2 separate regions of the Homo sapiens genome follow, and region 1 is linked to region 2. Evidence: fine-mapped expression QTL. A gene starts in region 2. The other region holds a variant in brackets. All regions are shown on one strand. Distances are between the middles of the regions. Region 1 holds the start of HNRNPH1 (heterogeneous nuclear ribonucleoprotein H1). Region 2 holds the start of RUFY1 (RUN and FYVE domain containing 1).

Region 1 (8,327 bases), 74 kb before region 2:
GCCCGCCACCACGCCCGGCTAATTTTTTGTATTTTTAGTAGAGACGGGGTTTCACTGTGTTATCCAGGATGGTCTCGATCTGCTGACCTTGTGATCTGCCCACCTCGGCCTCCCAAAGTGCTGGGATTACAGGCGTGAGCCGCCGCGCCCAGCCGGGTTATTTATGATTGCATTTATTTTCTTTTCTTTGAGGCACAGTCTCGCTCTGTCACCTAGGCTGGAGTGCAGTGGTGTGATCTTGGCTCACTGCAACCTCTGTCTCTGGGGTTCAAGCCATCCTCCCACCTCACACTCCTGTGTAGCTGGGATTACAGACGTATGCCACCACACCCGGTTAATTTATCTTTTTTCCTACACTTGATCTTTGCCAAAAGGATGAGATGTGATAATGTAGTAGAGACGGGGTTTCACCGTGTTGGCCAGGTTAGTCTGGAACTCTTGACTTCAAGTGATCAGCCCACCATGGCCTCCCAGAGAGCTAGGAGTACAGGGTGAGCCACCATGCCCAGCTGATATCATTGGTTTTAAAACACATTCCTGGCCAGGTGCGGTGGCTCATGCGTGTAATCCCAGCAATTTGGGAGGCTGAGGTGGGTGGATCACCTGAGGTCAACATGGCAAAACCCGGTCTCTACTAAAAACACAAAAATTAGCTGGGTGTGGTGGCAGGCACCTGTAAACCCAGCTACTCTGGAGGCTGAGGTAGGAGAATCGCTTGAATCTGGGAGGTGGAGGTTGCAGTAAGCCGAGATCATGCCATTGCATTCCAGCCTGGGTGACAGAGCAAGACTCCATCTAAAATAAATAAATAAATACAAATTTTTAAAAAAGCAGAAGAAAATAAATAAAACACATTCCTATCTTATTGAGGCTAAGCTGTACAAAATGTGTCTTACAAATGATACTAAAGATAACAAATATGTGCTCAATCTCTGGATGGGAAAGGGCTTTCTAAACTTAAAGACAAACCTCAAAGGAACATATCCATGGCTTTGACATCAAGAAATTTAAAACTTCTATATGTCCAAATATTAAAAAGCAATCATAGGCCGGGTGCAGTGGCTCACACCTGTAATCACAGCACTTTGGGAGGCTAAGGTGGATGGATCACTTGAGGTTCGGAGTTCCAGATCAACCTGGCCAACATGGTGAAACCCCATCTCTACTAAAAATACAAAAATTAGCCGGGTGTGATGGTGCATGCCTGTAATCACAGCTATTTGGTATTTTTTTCCTTTTTTTTTTTTTGCAATGGAATCTCCCTCTGTTGCCCAGGCTGGAGTACAGTGGCAGGATCTCTGCTCACTGCAACCTCCACATCCTGGGTTCAAGTGATTCTCCTGCCTCAGCCTCCCAAGTAGCTGGGATTACAGGCGCCCACCACCATGCCCGGCTAATTTTTGTATTTTTGGTAGAGACAGGGTTTCACCATGTTGGCCAACATGTCTGAAACTCCTGACATCAAGTTATCCACCCACCTCAGCCTCCCAAAGTGCTGGGATTACAAGTGTGAGCCATTGCACCTGGCATATCCCAGCAATTTGGGAGATTGAGGCACAAGAATTGCTTGAACCCGGGAGGTGGAGGTTGCAGTGAGCCGAGATCACATACCTGCACTCCAACCTGAGTGACGAAGTGAGACCCTGTCTTAAAAAAAAAAAAGGCATAAATCAGGGCCGAGCATCATGGCTCACATGTAGAATAATCCCAGGGCTTTGAGAGGCCAAGGTGGGAGAATTGCTTGACGCCAGGAATTCAAGACTAGCCTGGGCAACATAGTGAGACCCCCATCACTACAAAAAAAAAAAAAATTAGTCGGGCCTGGTTGAAAGTGCCTTTAGTCCCAGCTACTCAGGAGGCTGAGCTTGGAGGATGGCTTGAGCCCAGGAGTTCAAGGCTGCAGTGAGTTATGATTGTGTCACTGCACGGAACAAGACATTGTCTGTAAAACAAACAAAAAATACCACCACAAAACCACAAAAATAATTAAAAGGTAAGCAAACTGAGAAGAATGTCTGGGGCAACTATCCTAAGGGCTAACAGCCTTAATAAAGAGCTCTGTAAACTGTAAGAAGTATACGAAGACATTAGCCGGGCGCAGTGGCTCACACCTATAATCCCAGCACTTTGGGAGCCCGAGGTGGGCGGATCATGAGGTTAGGAGATCGAGACCATCCTGGCTAACACGGTGAAACCCCGTCTCTAGTAAAAATACAAGAAAATTAGCTGGGCGTGGTGGCGGGCGCCTGTCGTCCCAGCTACTCTACTCGGGAGGCTGAGGCAGGAGAATGGTGTGAACCTGGGAGGCGGAGCTTGCAGTGAGCGGAGATCGCGCCATTGTACTCCAGCCTGGGCGACAGAGCGAGACTCCGTCTCAAAAAAAAAAAAAAAAAGAAGTATACCAAGACATAAAGACCACTGAGGCAAGATGATGAATTTTTTTTTTTTTTTTTAAAGACAGAGTCCTGCTCTGTTGCCCAGGCAGGAGTGCAGTGGTGCAATCTCTGCTCACTGCAACCTCCACCTCCCAGGTTCAAGTGATTCTCCTGCCTCAGCCTCCTGAGTAGCTGGGATTACAGGCACGCGACACCATGCCCGGCTACTTTTTGTATTTTTAGTAGAGACGGGGTTTCACCATGTTGGTCAGGCTGGTCTCTAACTCCTGAACTCTTGATCCACCTGCCTCGGCCTCCCAAAGTGCTGGGATTACAGGCATGAGCCCCACGCGTGGGCTGATGATTAACTTTTTATTTAAAAAAACCTTTGGCCGAGCATGGTGGCTCATGCTTGTAATCTCAGTACTTTGGGAGGCCGAGGCAGGCAGATCACTTGAGGTCAGGAGTTCCAGACCAGCCTGGCCAACATGGCAAAACCCCATCTCAACTAAAACTTAAAAAAAAGTAGCCAGGTGTGGTGGCACACACCTGTAATCCCTCTACTTGGGAGGCTAAGGCATGAGAATTGCTTGAACCTAGGAGGCAGAGGTTGCAGTGAGCCAAGATTGCACCACTGTACTCCAGCCTGGGTGACAGAGTTAGACTGTCTCAAAAACAAAACCAAACAAAAAAACCTTTCATTGCCAGCCATGGTGGCTCACACCTGTAATCCCAGCACTTTCTCTGCGAGGCTGAGGTGGAATGATTCCTTGAGCCCAAGAATTCAAGACCAGCCTGGGCAACAAAATGAGACCCCATTGCTACAAAAAATAAATAAATAAATAAATAAATAAATAAATAATCTGAGCAAGGTGGCACATGCCTGTGGTCCTACCTACTCAGGAGGCTGAGGCAGGAGGATTGTTTGAGCCCAGAAGGTAGAGGCTGTGGTGAGCCATGTTTGCACCACTGCACTCCAGCCTGGGTGACGGGCTGTGTCTCAAACAAACAAATAAAAAATAAAAATTTAAAAACCTTGTTTTAATATAAGTTGGACAATTTATATATAAGAGAATTGGCTATAAGTGTATGAAATGTATTCTACCTTACTACTATTCTTTTTTTTTTTTTTTTTGAGACGGAGTTTTGCTCTTATTGCCCAGGCTGGAGTGCAATGGCGTGATCTCAGCTGACTGCAACTGCTGCCTCCTGGGTTTAAGTGATTCTCCTGCCTCAGTCTTGCCAAGTGGTTGGGATTACAGGCATGCATCACCATGCCTGGCTAATTTTTTTTTTTTTTTTTTTTTGAGAGGGAGTCTTTGTAGCCCAGGCTGGAGGGCAGTGGTGTGATCTCAGCTCACTGCTTCCTCTGCCTCCTGGGTTCAGGTGATTCTCCTGCCTCAGCCTCCAGAGTAGCTGGGATTACAGGCGTGTGCATGCATAGATAATTTTTGTATCTTTAGTAGAGATGGGGTTTCACCATGTTGGCCAAGCTGGTCTGAAACTCCTGATCTCAAGTGATCTGCCTGCCTCGGCCTCCCAAAATGCTGGTATTACACGAGTGAGCCACCGCACCTGGCCGGACTCTCTTCTTGATTACCTCAGCCAAAGTGCCTTCTGAAATGGTACCACAGGTGTGTGCTTCTAGTTCAGTTTGTAGTAGAGGGCCTGGTATGTACCGTCATTCACCCTGCCTGCTCCATCTGCATCCCCCTCACATCCAGCAAGAGTTTTCCTTTACACAGGGTTTACGGCTCCCCTGCTGATCACCTGCCAAAGCCTTCTCTCGGAGATAACACCCTTGCCAAGGCCTAAGTGGCCTTTGAAGATCAGGCCCTGCTTAGCTCTGGGCTCCTGTCTTTCTTTTGATGTCCTCTCTACTTTTTCTCAAACCTGTCAAAACTGGATTCGGACTCTGTGGCACTGGGGTTGGAAACATGCTTTGTCCGCATCTTCCCAGGGTGGCACTCAGGCTTGCACTAGCTAAGGTAGCTCTGCGGCAGGGTCCAGCACTACCTTATTGTTAATTTGTGTATTGTCTGTGTCCACTAAAGCTGGGGTGAGGAAGGCAGCCAAATCAGACATGGGGAGGCCTGGGAGGCTACGGCATCTTAGGTTTTGGGCAGTGCTGCTAGAAACCACGAACATTAGTCATCTCGCAGCATGTGTGCACATGGGGTGACCCGGGGGCCTCCTCGAATGCAGCGTCTACGCCTGGTGAATGGACGCACTCTTACCAATTCTGCTCTGGGAGATGCAGCGGTAACCTACCGAGCGCAGAGGCCGGCGCGCACCCGTGGAGCCCGCGCTCGCGATCCCTCCTCGTGCCAGGGCCCCAGGGCAGTCAAGGCCTGCCGACCGTTAGGCGGGTCAAGGGGTACACAGGGTGCGAATTCGTTAGGCAAAAGCTGGGTACAGGCGCGAGCCACAGGCACGGAAACCTCGCGCCGACCGGGGCCCTAGGCCCGACGACGGCAGGTAAGGGGAAGTGGAGGCACACAGGGCTGGGACGTGCCCCAGG[C/T]ACCATACGGGTGGCTTCGGGCGCGGGACGTCCGCAGCCCCGCAGCTCCCAGGACGTTCGACAATCTGCAGCTGACCAGCTTCGGCCGGTTTGGGGATAAAGGGAAGACAGGCGGCGCGGGGAGTGGGAACGCCTGAAGGCCGCGCCCCTCCTTTCAGGTCGGCCAGGAGCGCGCCGGTAAGAGCCTGGGGGCAAGGGGTAGAAAGACGCCCACCTCATCACAACCCAGAGCTCGGGACTCCTATACAGTCCCATAGGGAACAGGCGGCCGCCATTCCCCTCCCCCACGCTGGCGGGTAAGGCTAGAGAACGGTTTCAAGGAAGACGCATGCGCATGAAATAATTATAAACCGCTAGGACTCCGAAGTTCAATATTCGCGGGAAGGCGCAGGCGCAACAAAAAGCCCGGCGGGTTTATGGGTGGGGGTGCTGAGCCCAAAACCCAAGCGTGTAATAATCCGCCGGCGGGAGGTGGGCTGGCTCTTGAAATTACGCATGCGCCAGAGCTCTTTGTGACGCAACGGGGCGGTGCGGGCAGCTGGCTGCGCGTGCGCAGAACTCGCACAAGGGACCTTATTTAGGTTGCGCAGGCGCCCGCTGGCCATTTCGTCTTAGCCACGCAGAAGTCGCGTGTCTAGGTGAGTCGCGGTGGGTCCTCGCTTGCAGTTCAGCGACCACGGTGGGTACCGTTTTTGCGAGGATTGTTTGTCCCCATATCTCTGGGAGGGCCACGGGGACCTTGGCGAGCTGCAGGCTGCCGTCGAGAGCCGCGAGTGGTTCGCTGAATCTCGGCACCGCCGCTGAGGCCTGCAGGCCGCGCCGACTCTATTGTGTGAGAAGTCGGAGGAGGCGGAGCGGAAGCGGCCGCCGCCATTTCCTTTCCTCTACGCTGGCTCTCGGCCCGGGCCCCCACGGTTCGGGGCGCCGACAGCTGTTGCTCAGGACAGCTTTGGGGGTCCGGTCGCCGGACGAGGAGGTGTTGGAGTCGCCGGGGTGGGTGCATCCGCCCGGTTTTTGCTCCGTGGGGGGGCGGTGCGGGCCCGGGCGCGCCTCGGAGGCGAAGGACAGCTTAATTGGCGCTCTCAGTTCTGGTCCTCCCCGCTTTGCAGTTTGTTTCGACGCCGGACCGCGTAAGAGACGATGATGTTGGGCACGGAAGGTGGAGAGGGATTCGTGGTGAAGGTCCGGGGCTTGCCCTGGTCTTGCTCGGCCGATGAAGTGCAGAGGTTTTTTTCTGGTGAGTTAGAACTAGGACGCGGGAGTTCGAGTTCGAGGCCGGGGCGGGCGGGCTGGCGGGCGGCCGGGCTGGGGCGGGGCGGGGCGGGGCGGGCCGGGCCGGGCCGGGCCGGGTGGGACCCGGGGCGCCCCCTGGCGAGGCGCGGGCGACTACACTCACCGCTGTGCTGCTCGCGCCCGGCGGCCCGCTGTTACGCAATGGAAATTTCGAAAGCCCCGCCCGTCCTCCTGGCCCTTGGGGGAGTGCGGCAGGTTTGGCAGACTTTGTTTTCTTTACCTATCTTTGAACACCAGCTTTTCTTTTATGGGTGTCTTTTTTTCTTTTTCTTTTGAGTTGGAGTCTCTGTCACCCAAGCTGGAGTGCAGTGGCGCGTTCTCGGCTCACTGCAACCTCCGCCTCCTGGGTTCAAGCGATTCTCCTGCCTCAGTCTCCCGAGTGTCTGGGACTAGAGGCGCGCACCGCCACGCCCGGCTAATTTTTGTATTTTTAGTAGAGACGGGGTTTCACTATTTTGGCCAGGCTGGTCTCGAACATCTGACCTCAAGTGATCCGCCCACCTCGGTTTCCCAAAATGCTGGGATTACAGGCGTGAGCCACCGCGCCTGGCCCGGGTGTCTTTTTTCGAAAGGATAAATTGGCATAGGTGGGATTTCCTCCTCAATCTTGAGAAAATGGCCGAGTGATTAGACAAATAATAGTAATGTTTTGCAATATCTTGAAGTGTAACCTCTTGTTTCCAGTTTTGGTGTTTTCTTAAAAAGGAGCATTCTTCGGAAAGTTAAAATGTCACGTCTTAATTTCAGTTTTCCTAATCAAGATTTGATAATTGAAGAGTGTTTTCTTATCTAGTTCTTAATCTGGCTCACTATACAGTTGAAGACACTGAAGCCCAGGGAAGTGTTTTTGCAGTACATAGGTTTCCTGAATATTTTCTATCAGAATGTCCTTGTTCCTATTATTAGACTGGGAAAAAGAAATTAGACTGATTAAAATTCTATTTGGATGAAATTAACAGCTTTTGGCAAGACGTTTGTAGTATTGACTTACTATCTGAATTTAGCGTTGGTAACGGAAAGCGACCTGTAAAACAAGAACCAAGTACGCTGGAAGCCGCCTTGCAGGGGGCAACACTGGGTTTGGCTTCAGCTGTGCAACTTGGAGCATTTTAGCTTGGTAACACTGATCCCCTTTCAGGTGAGTATTGGGCTTGTAATTTGAATTTGAATGAGAAACCGTAATGTGGCTACTGGTAAGGTAAAACGGATAAATGCCCCAGACCAAAACAGCTCGCAACGAAGTATGTTTGCCGTAAAGTCACACAGTCCAGGCTTGATAATCTTCTGAGAAATTGATAAAAGATGTGTGATGTAGACATGAGTAGCAAGGACTAAAGAGATAAATTCATTCTGAAACTGCTTTGAATATTGTATGTTGTTGATGGGTTGGAAATATATCACCTTAGGAATGAGTTTGTTTTTTTTTAATTGGAGTTTTAGGAGTTGGTAATATCGTGGTCAGTATATATAGGCTTCACAAGTTATGTAATTTGTAGTGGGGACATGGAATAGACATTTCATCTGTGTCACCCAGAGGTGGTTTTAGGTTTTAAATTCTGTATTAACGGTTGTTTTCTTTCCAGACTGCAAAATTCAAAATGGGGCTCAAGGTATTCGTTTCATCTACACCAGAGAAGGCAGACCAAGTGGCGAGGCTTTTGTTGAACTTGAATCAGAAGATGAAGTCAAATTGGCCCTGAAAAAAGACAGAGAAACTATGGGACACAGATATGTTGAAGGTTTGATTTACATTGCCCTAGTTACAGTAAATAAAGCATTAAACAATAGAGGTCTCACCCCTTCTGAATTTTAGGTATTTGACTGCATGGAAATGGTCATCTAAGGGAGTTTGTGGCAGCTCTTCCTAGCTTATCTAAAGACCCAGGAAGTCTGAACTTTGTTATCTAATTTTCCAAAAGTGACTAATTCTAAGCACCTCTTTCAGTATTCAAGTCAAACAACGTTGAAATGGATTGGGTGTTGAAGCATACTGGTCCAAATAGTCCTGACACGGCCAATGATGGCTTTGTACGGCTTAGAGGACTTCCCTTTGGATGTAGCAAGGAAGAAATTGTTCAGTTCTTCTCAGGTATGTAGTCATGTTTGTTGCTGAGCAGTGAGTTTTGGCTAGCTTATGG
Region 2 (8,327 bases):
CTGGTTTCAAGCAATTTTCCTGCCTCAGCCTCCCGAGCAGCTGGGATTACAGGCGTGCGCCACCACGCCCATCTAATTTTTGTACTTTTAGTGGAGACGGGGTTTCACCATGTTGGCCAGGCTGGTCTCAAACTCCTGACCTCAAATGATCCGCCCGCCTCGGCCTCCCAAAGTGCTGGGATTACAGGCATGAGCCACCATGCCTGTCCGAATGTTCTTTTGTATGGTTTGATTTTTAAAAATCATGTTCGCTTATTACCTTAAAAAAAAATCCCCCAAAACCAAACAGGACACCTATGGACAATACAATCACATACCAGACCCCACATGGGAAAACTTTTCTTTTCTTTTTTTTTTTGAGACAAAGTTTTGCTCTTGTTGCCCTAGCTGAAGTGCAATGCGGCGATCTTGGCTCACAGCAACCTCCACCCCCCAGGTTCAAGAGATTCTCCTGCCTCAGCCTCCTGAATAGCTGGGATTACACGCCTACGCCACCATGCCTGGCTAATTTTGTATTTTTAGTAGAGACGGGGTTTCTCCATGTTGGTCAGGCTGGTCTCAAACTCCCAACATCAGGTGATTCACCCACCTCGGTCTTCCAAAGTGCTGGGATTACAGGCATGAGCCACTGCACCCGACCGGGACAACATTTTAAAACAAGTATTCAAAATATTCCGCAGCATTTCCTTTAGCTTCTACCATTGAAAAAATATCATCCAGCAAGAGTGCTGCTCACATTCAATCTCTGCTCCTAAACTGCTCCCTCTGAAAGTCCTGCCTGTCCTCATTGCTTGTGTAGGCAGATCAGTGGGGAAAGAGAATGAGTCAGCCTTGGGCCTGGCCCTGGCTGAAGTGGTGTCACTGTCTTTCTCCCATCCTGTTTTTCTTGTGTCGCTGCAGAGCGAGCCGCCCTTGGCCCATTTCCTTTCCCACCTCTGCTCCTGTCCTACCTGATGGCTTCAAATCCCGGTGACCTTTGGGACCAGCCTCATGGCTCTACCCAGCAGTTCCCCAAATTTCATCTCTTTGTAAGCCATGGTCACCATTTTGCTAGATTGAGTGGTAGTTATTAATACTTTCCTTAAATTGAGTTAATTATTATTTTTTGAGATAGTCTCGTTCTGTTGCCCAGGCTGGACTGCAGTGGAATGGTCTCGGCTCACTGCAAACTCCGCCTCTTATGTTCAAGCAATTCTCCTGCCTCAGCCTCCTGAGTAGCTGGGATTACAGGTGCGTACCACCAAGCCCGGCTAATTTTTGTACTTTTTTTTTTAGTAGAGATAGGGTTTCACCATGTTGGCCAGGTTGGTCTCGAACTCCTGACCTCAGGTGATCTGCCTGCCTCGGCCTCCCAAAATGCTGGGATTACAGGTGTGAGCCACCATGCCCGGCCTAGTTTTTTAAATCCATATGGGATATATATATAGACATTTTGCAGTTGGTGAAGTTACTTCTCTTTAATACTCTCTTTATAAAATAGGGATAATAATGGTACTCATCACCCTGTGCCATCTACATGATTTACAAGGCCCAGTGCAAAATTCCCGGCCTGGAGCAGAGCACAGAAGTCAGACTCCCCCTTACTACAGCCCTAATGGATTGCAACTTCCCTGCAGGGATGGGACAGGTGAGAGGCCCCTGCCCACTTGCCTGCCTAATGTGCTGTGGTACCAGCCACCCTGCCCTGAGATTCGGAGGGTGCAATCCCAACGCTGCCTGGGCAAGAGTGGGATCAGGGAGGGTAGGGAGAAGCCCCAGGGCAGCTCGAGTGGGCCAGGGCAACTGAGAACCTGTCCCATTGGACTTCACTTAAAAAACACAAATTCAAAGATAAAATTAAGAATTTCAAGCATGGGATACTTCTGAGTGCCTGGCCCTTTCCACCAGAGTGATCAAAGCCTGCATTGACTGTCCACCCATGAAGCTAGTCCTGCTATCACATAGGGTTGTTGTGAGGAATGAATGAATACTTGTACAGGTTTAAGACTAATGCCTGGCACCTTTGAAGGACAATATAAGTGTTGGCTATTGTTTCTATCACTTCCATAGATGGAACACAGGTATTTTTCAAATATGCATTTGTTCAGCAAACACTTATTATTCTGTGCCAGGTACTGACACATTTCATTTTATCTTTTTAATTTTTTCCTTGATTCTGCATTAAAGGAAAGAAATTCTAGCAGGGAAGAACTTTTATTATTTGCTTACTCCTGCCACGAAATATCTAAGAGGCCTCCAGGAGACGCCATGCCTTGACTTTCAGTACTGACTGTCAATGAGTATGCAACTCAGCATCCACTGATGTGTGGAAAAGTCTCGGGAAAAGGTGTCAAGCTAGAGGGCAGTAGATTCCCGGCCTGCCCAGGCTCTCATCATCCTCTAATGCTATTTTCCACTGCCAGGATCTCAAAACGAGTCAGCCTTTCAACTTTACTCAGTAATTATTCTTGACCACTGAAAATCTCACAATTCACTACCTGGGGTCAGTGCATCTACAGCAAAGGTACCAGTGGATGGGGAGGAATCAGGAAGCCTCGAGTGTGTGCTATGATGCTCCTTGGAAGGCACCACAACCTTTCCTCAGCTCTGTCCCAGCATTTTCTATGAAGTTGGCAATGTTCTATTATGTGCTATCTCATACAGTAGCCACTGGCCACACACAGGCTACTGAGCATTTAAAATGTGGCCGCTGTAATCGAGGAACAAGTTTTTTTTTTTTTTTTTTTTTTTGAGACAGAGTCTCGCTCTGTCACCCAGGCTGGAGTGCAGTGGCGCGATCTCGGCTCACTGCAACCTCTGCCTCCCAGGTTCAAGCGATTCTCCTGCCTCAGCCTCCTGAGTAGCTGGGACTACAGGTGCATGCCAACACACCCAGCTAATTTTTTGTATTTTTAGTAGAGACGGGGTTTCACCATGTTGGCCAGGATGGTCTCGATCTCTTGACCTCGTGATCCACCCGCTTCGGCCTCCCAAAGTGCTGGGATTACAGGCGTGAGCCACCGCTCCCGGCCGAGGAACTCAATTTTTAATTCAATTTAAAAGTACTGAATTTCAATTGATTCAGTTAGAAATTGAGGAATCCGGCCGGGCGCGGTGGCTCAAGCCTGTAGTCCCAGTACTTTACGAGGCCGAGGCAGGTGTATCACAAGGTCAGGAGTTCAAGACCAGCCTGGCCAAGATGGTGAAACCCCGTTTCTACTAAAAATATGGGAGGGGGGTGGGGGCGGGGAACTTAGCCGAGCGTGGTGGTGGGCACCTGTAATCCCAGCTACTCGGGAGGCTGAGGCGGGAGGGAGGATCGCTTGAACCCGGGAGGCAGAGGGTGCAGTGAGCCGAGATCGCACCACTGCACTCCAGCCTGGGCGACAGAGCAAGACCCGGTCTCAAAAAAATAAAAATAAATAAAAACAAAAACACACACACAAAAACATATGCGTGCTGTTGTATTGGATAGCACAGCTCTGGATGTCTGGCGTTAGAGGGCTAAGTTACTTAACTCTTACTATCACTGATATGCTGGCACTCTGTTCATTACAAGGGCTGAAAAGGTCTTTAAGAGATCATCGGGTGACTTTAAAATCCCCATCTCACAGGCAGAGGTGAGCGGAGGCGCCGCTGGTCCGCTGCGCGCAGGGCCCACGCCCTCCCAACACCCGCCGGCGCTCCACTCCCGCACTGAACGGCTGAAAAGCAGAACAGTGCTGGCTCCGTTTCGTGTGTGGAGTTACTACAGAGTTCCGAAGCCCGGACGCGCACACGTCCTTCACCTAGTTAGTGGGAGAGCATAGAGGCGCGGGTGCGGGAGCGCGCTCAGGCACGCGGGGCTGCGGGGGGCGGTCTCGGCTGGGCCGCCGGAGTAAAGACCCAGGCGCAGCCAGGCGCCGCCCGCCCGCCAACAGCTCGCGTAACCTCCCGGAACGGCCAGTGCCCTCCCAGCCCGGCCCCCACCGCGCCCGCGCCGGCGGCCAGCGGGGACACGCGAGTCCGCCGCGGGACAGACCCGGCCCGAGCCTACCTGCGCGCGCCGTGCCGTCCCCGCTGTCCCCGCCGCCCAGCCCCGCGGCCGCGCGCAGCGCGCTCCCGCAGCTCGCCGACAGGTTCCCGGTGGCCCTGCGTGCCAGGGTCAGGATGGGCGCCGACCAGCCCTCGGCCGCCCGCGGCCTCGTTGCGCTCCGCAGGTCGCCTGGGCCGGGCAGCTGGCTTCGGTCCACGATCTCAAACTCTTCTCCCGGCTCAAGCGCTGACCCGGGCCCCGGCCCCGGCTCCAGCTCCGGCTCCAGCTCCCGCCCCCGCCCAGCAGCGCAGCCGCCTTCCCGGTCGGCCATCTTGGCCGTGTCATGTGACCCAGCGGGCGGGCGGGCGCGGGGTGGGGGCGGGCGGGCATCGCCTTTGCCTTAGGTGGGGGAGATTTTTCTCCCTCTTCACCGCCTCGCCTTCCCTCTGTTTCGAAAGGTTCGGGAAAGTCCAAGTCATAACATAAAAAGTGTGCGTATTCCCGGCCGCCGGCAGGACCTGTTCGCGGGGAAGTTCCTCTTGAACTTTCTCCGAGGACAGTTGTGCACCCTGCCCGGCGCTTCACGGGGTTCCCTGGCCGTCGTTGTCTTTGTGACACCATTTCCTCTTTTAAATTTTCATTTCATGGTCTATATTTTCCACTTCGTCATTTTTCTGTAGCACTCATTAGAACAAGCCCCGAAAGGGCGACTAAGGAAACGCACAGGCGAGGCAGGAAAGCAGGAATTTTTTTTTTTTTTTAATCTAATGACTATGACGGCTTGGCAAGAAAGAGTGCACGATAGTGGACTGGAAATCAGAGGTGGCTTCTCCTATTGATTAGTTAAGTGGGATAACAAAAACCGACCTCATTATTAAATAAGATTTGCAGTAAGGACCACATGGCAGATGTTAGCGATTGTGACTACTATCTCTGGTATCCAACTGTGTGGCCTGGGTAAGTCACTATACACTCAGTCTGTTTCTTCACTTGGAAAAGAAAGGAATTTGAGTAAGTACAAAGGAAAATTTTGGCCGGGCGCGGTGGCTCACGCCTGTAATCCCAGCACTTCGGAAGGCCCAGGCGGGCCTTTAGTAGGACGAAACCCCGTCTCTACTAAAATACCAAAACAACAACAACAACAACAACAAAAAACCAGCCAGATGTCGTGGCGGGACAGCTCTACTCCTAGCTCCTTGGGGGGCTGAGAGTGGGAGGATCGCTTGAGCCCGGGAGGTCGATCCCACAGTGAGCGGAGATCATGGCCACTGCACTCCAGGCTGGGCGACAAAGTGAGACCCTGTCTCAGAAAAAACACTAAAATTTACTAGCACTTAACACTTTGCAAAGTGAGGCAACATGAGCCACACCAAACCAGCAGAGCTGTTTTGATTCCCAGAATGTTTACAAATCTTAAAACTTGTTGCCAATATTTAGAAATCAAAAGATTTCACATAAGAATCTGGATTTTAGCTTTCTCTGGAATCACTGGAATATTTGGTAACTCATGGCATATTCCCAGATGGCAACAAACTGTTGGGAATAAACTGTGCTGCCCCTTTAGACGCCCAGCTGCTCCCTGGACCTGTCTTGGTCCAGCCCACTTCACTAGGTTGCATGATATGTCTGGTCCCTGAAAGGCCAGTTCTCAGTGAAGGGATACCACTTCATCTAGGAGTGTTTTGGGAATTTGTGGAGTTGGTGTTTGAGTTGTGTAATGACTGAGGGCATACTACCAGTCTTTTTTGTTTGTTTGTTTTCGTACGGAGTCTCGCTCAGTCGCCCAGGCTGGAGTGCAGTGGCGCGATCTCGGTTCACTGCAAGCTCCACCTCCCGGGTTCACGCCATTCTCCTGCCTCAGCCTCCCGAGTAGCTGGGACTACAGGTGCCCGCCACCACGCCCGGCTAATTTTTTTTTTTTTTTGTATTTTTAGTAGAAACGGGGTTTCACCGTGTTAGCCAGGATGGTCTTGATCTCCTGACCTCGTGATCCGCCAGCCTCGGCCTCCCAAAGTGCTGGGATTAGAGGCGTGAGCCACCACGCCCGGCCTGGTCTTGTTTGTTTGTTTGTTTTTGAGGCCAAGTCCTGCTCTGTCACCAAGCTGGAGTGCAGTGGCGCAATCTCGGCTCACTGTAACCTCTGCCTACCGGGTTCAAGCGATTTTCCTGCCTCAGCCTCCCAAGTAGCTGGGACTGCAGGGGCGTGGCGCCACACTTGGCTAATTTTTGTACTTTTAGTAGAGACGGGGTTTCACCATGTTCGCCAGGATAGTCTCGATCTCTCGACCTCGTGATTCCCCCGCCTCGGCCTCTCAAAGTGTTGAGATTACAGGCGTGAGCCACTGAGCCCGGCCCTACTAGTCTTTACTGGATGCATAGACAGGGATGAAGATAGTCTAGAATAACAGCATTGTCCCGAATCCTTCATGACTTTCCAATGCTACTGGACATTTATGTAGGTGAAAAGTTTGTTTATAATGATCAGGGCGTGGAACCGAATTCCATTTTGTATAAAAACATTAACTCTTTTTTGGGGGAACAGTTTCAACATTTATCAGGCAAGGTTATTCTTCAGTAACAACCCCCAAATCTCAATGGCTTAACCTAAAAGCTGGTTTCTCATCATGCTACATGTCAATGTAGATGGGGTGAGTACTCTGCCCAACTCATTGTAGTCTCTCAGGACCCAGCCTGTTGGGAGTTTTGCATAAATATTACATGCTCCAGTCCTGCATGACAAAGGTCACTTATGCACATTTCATTGGTGAAAGCAAATCACATGGCCACGTTTAATTTCTAGGGAGTTGGGAAGTTCAGACCTATTTCTGTCTGGGAAAACCACAACTGGGAATCTTTGTGAGCAGTGTAATGACTACCATAAGTGTACCCTAAATTTTCCTGGAACGTAGCTAAATTGATTTGTTCAGAATTACACGTGCAAATGTCTATGTTATTTCAGTGGTAGTTGTGCCTCGTTTACATATTGAAATATATCTCATTTTATAGTGCTTCGCTTTATTGCTTTTTTAACAAATTAAAGTTTTTGGCAGCCGGGCACGGTGGCTCACGCCTGTAATCCCAGCACTCTGGGAGGCACAGGTGGGTGGATCACCTGAGATCAGGAGTTCGTGACCAGCGTGGCCGACATGGCGAAACCCCGTCTCTACTAAAAACACAAAAATTAGCCAGGCGTGGTGGTGGGAGCCTATAATCCCAGCTACTCTGGAGGCTGAGGCAGGAGAATCGCTTGAACCTGGGAGGCAGAGGTTGCAGTGAGCCGAGATCGAACCACTGCACTCCAGCCTGGGCGACAAGTGCAAAAAAAACTGCGTCTCAAAAAAAGAAAAAGTTGCTGTTGGCAACCCAACAGCACGTGCTTATTTTGTGCCTCTGTTTCACATTTTCGTAATTCTCAAAATATTCTAAACTTTTAAACTACCCTTACATCTGTTATATGATTTGTGATCTGTGATCTTTGGTGTTACTATTATTAATTGTTTTGGGGCACCACAAACTGCACCCATATAAGATGGTAAACTTAATTGATAAATGTTGTATGTGTTCTTACTGCTCCACCAACCACGTGTTTCCTTCTCCCTTACCCTCTCCTCGGGCCTCCCTGTGCCCTGAGACACAATATTGAAATTAGGCCAATTAGGCCGTGGCTCAAACCTGTAATCCCTGCACTTTGGGAGTCTAAGGTGGGCAGATCACTTGCGATCAGGAGTTCCAGGCCAACATGGTGAAACCCTGTCTCTACTAAAAATACAAAATTAGCTGGGTGTGGTGGCAGGCACCTGTAATACCAGCTACTGGGGAGGCTGAGGCACGAGAATTGCTTGAACCTGGGAGGCGGAGGTTGCAGTGAGCTAAGATTGCATCACTGCACTCCAGCCTGGGCGATAGAGTGAAACTCCATCTCCAACCAAAAAAAAGAAAAGAAAAAGGAAAAGAAATTAGGCCAATTAATAACCGTACAATGGCCTCTGAGTGTTCAGGTAAAAGGAAGAGTTGCATGTCTCTCTCTTTATATCAAAAGCTAGAAATGATTAAGCTTAATGAGGTAGGCACGTCAAAAGCCGTGATGGGCCAAAAGCTTGGCCTCTTGCACACAGTTAGCCAAGTTGTGAATGCAAAGGAAAAGTTCTTGCTGGAAATTAAAAGTGCTACTCTGGCCAGGTGTGGTGGCTCATGCTTGTAATCCCAGCACTTTGGAATGCTGAGGCGGCCGATCACATGAGGCCAGGAGTTTGAGACCAGCCTGGCCAACATGGTGAAAACCTGCCTTTACTAAAAATACAAAAATTAGCCAGGTGCAGTGCTGCGCCTGTAT

The links.
Region 1: its variant is fine-mapped to the expression of RUFY1 in tibial nerve (GTEx, PIP above 0.99).

What each region holds. Positions count from the first base shown.
Region 1 is chr5:179,620,843-179,629,169 of GRCh38, reverse strand. HNRNPH1 (heterogeneous nuclear ribonucleoprotein H1) reads left to right here and starts at 5,499. Exons shown (of 14, transcript NM_001257293.2): 1 at 5,499-5,575; 2 at 6,006-6,133; 3 at 7,773-7,928; 4 at 8,135-8,278. The coding sequence starts at 6,037. All of the region lies in intron 4 of LOC128966623 (a long non-coding RNA gene), which reads right to left. RefSeq lists enhancers at 3,888-4,672, 4,673-5,458, 5,208-5,502, 5,558-5,727. The variant C/T (reference allele first, on the strand shown) is at 4,897.
Region 2 is chr5:179,546,568-179,554,894 of GRCh38, reverse strand. It overlaps RUFY1 (RUN and FYVE domain containing 1), which reads right to left and starts at 4,341. Exons shown (of 18, transcript NM_025158.5): 1 at 4,016-4,341. The coding sequence starts at 4,325. All of the region lies in intron 4 of LOC128966623 (a long non-coding RNA gene), which reads right to left. It overlaps LOC105377762 (a long non-coding RNA gene), which reads left to right and starts at 4,391. Exons shown (of 4, transcript XR_941315.4): 1 at 4,391-4,951. RefSeq lists an enhancer at 1-461 and a silencer at 3,707-4,416.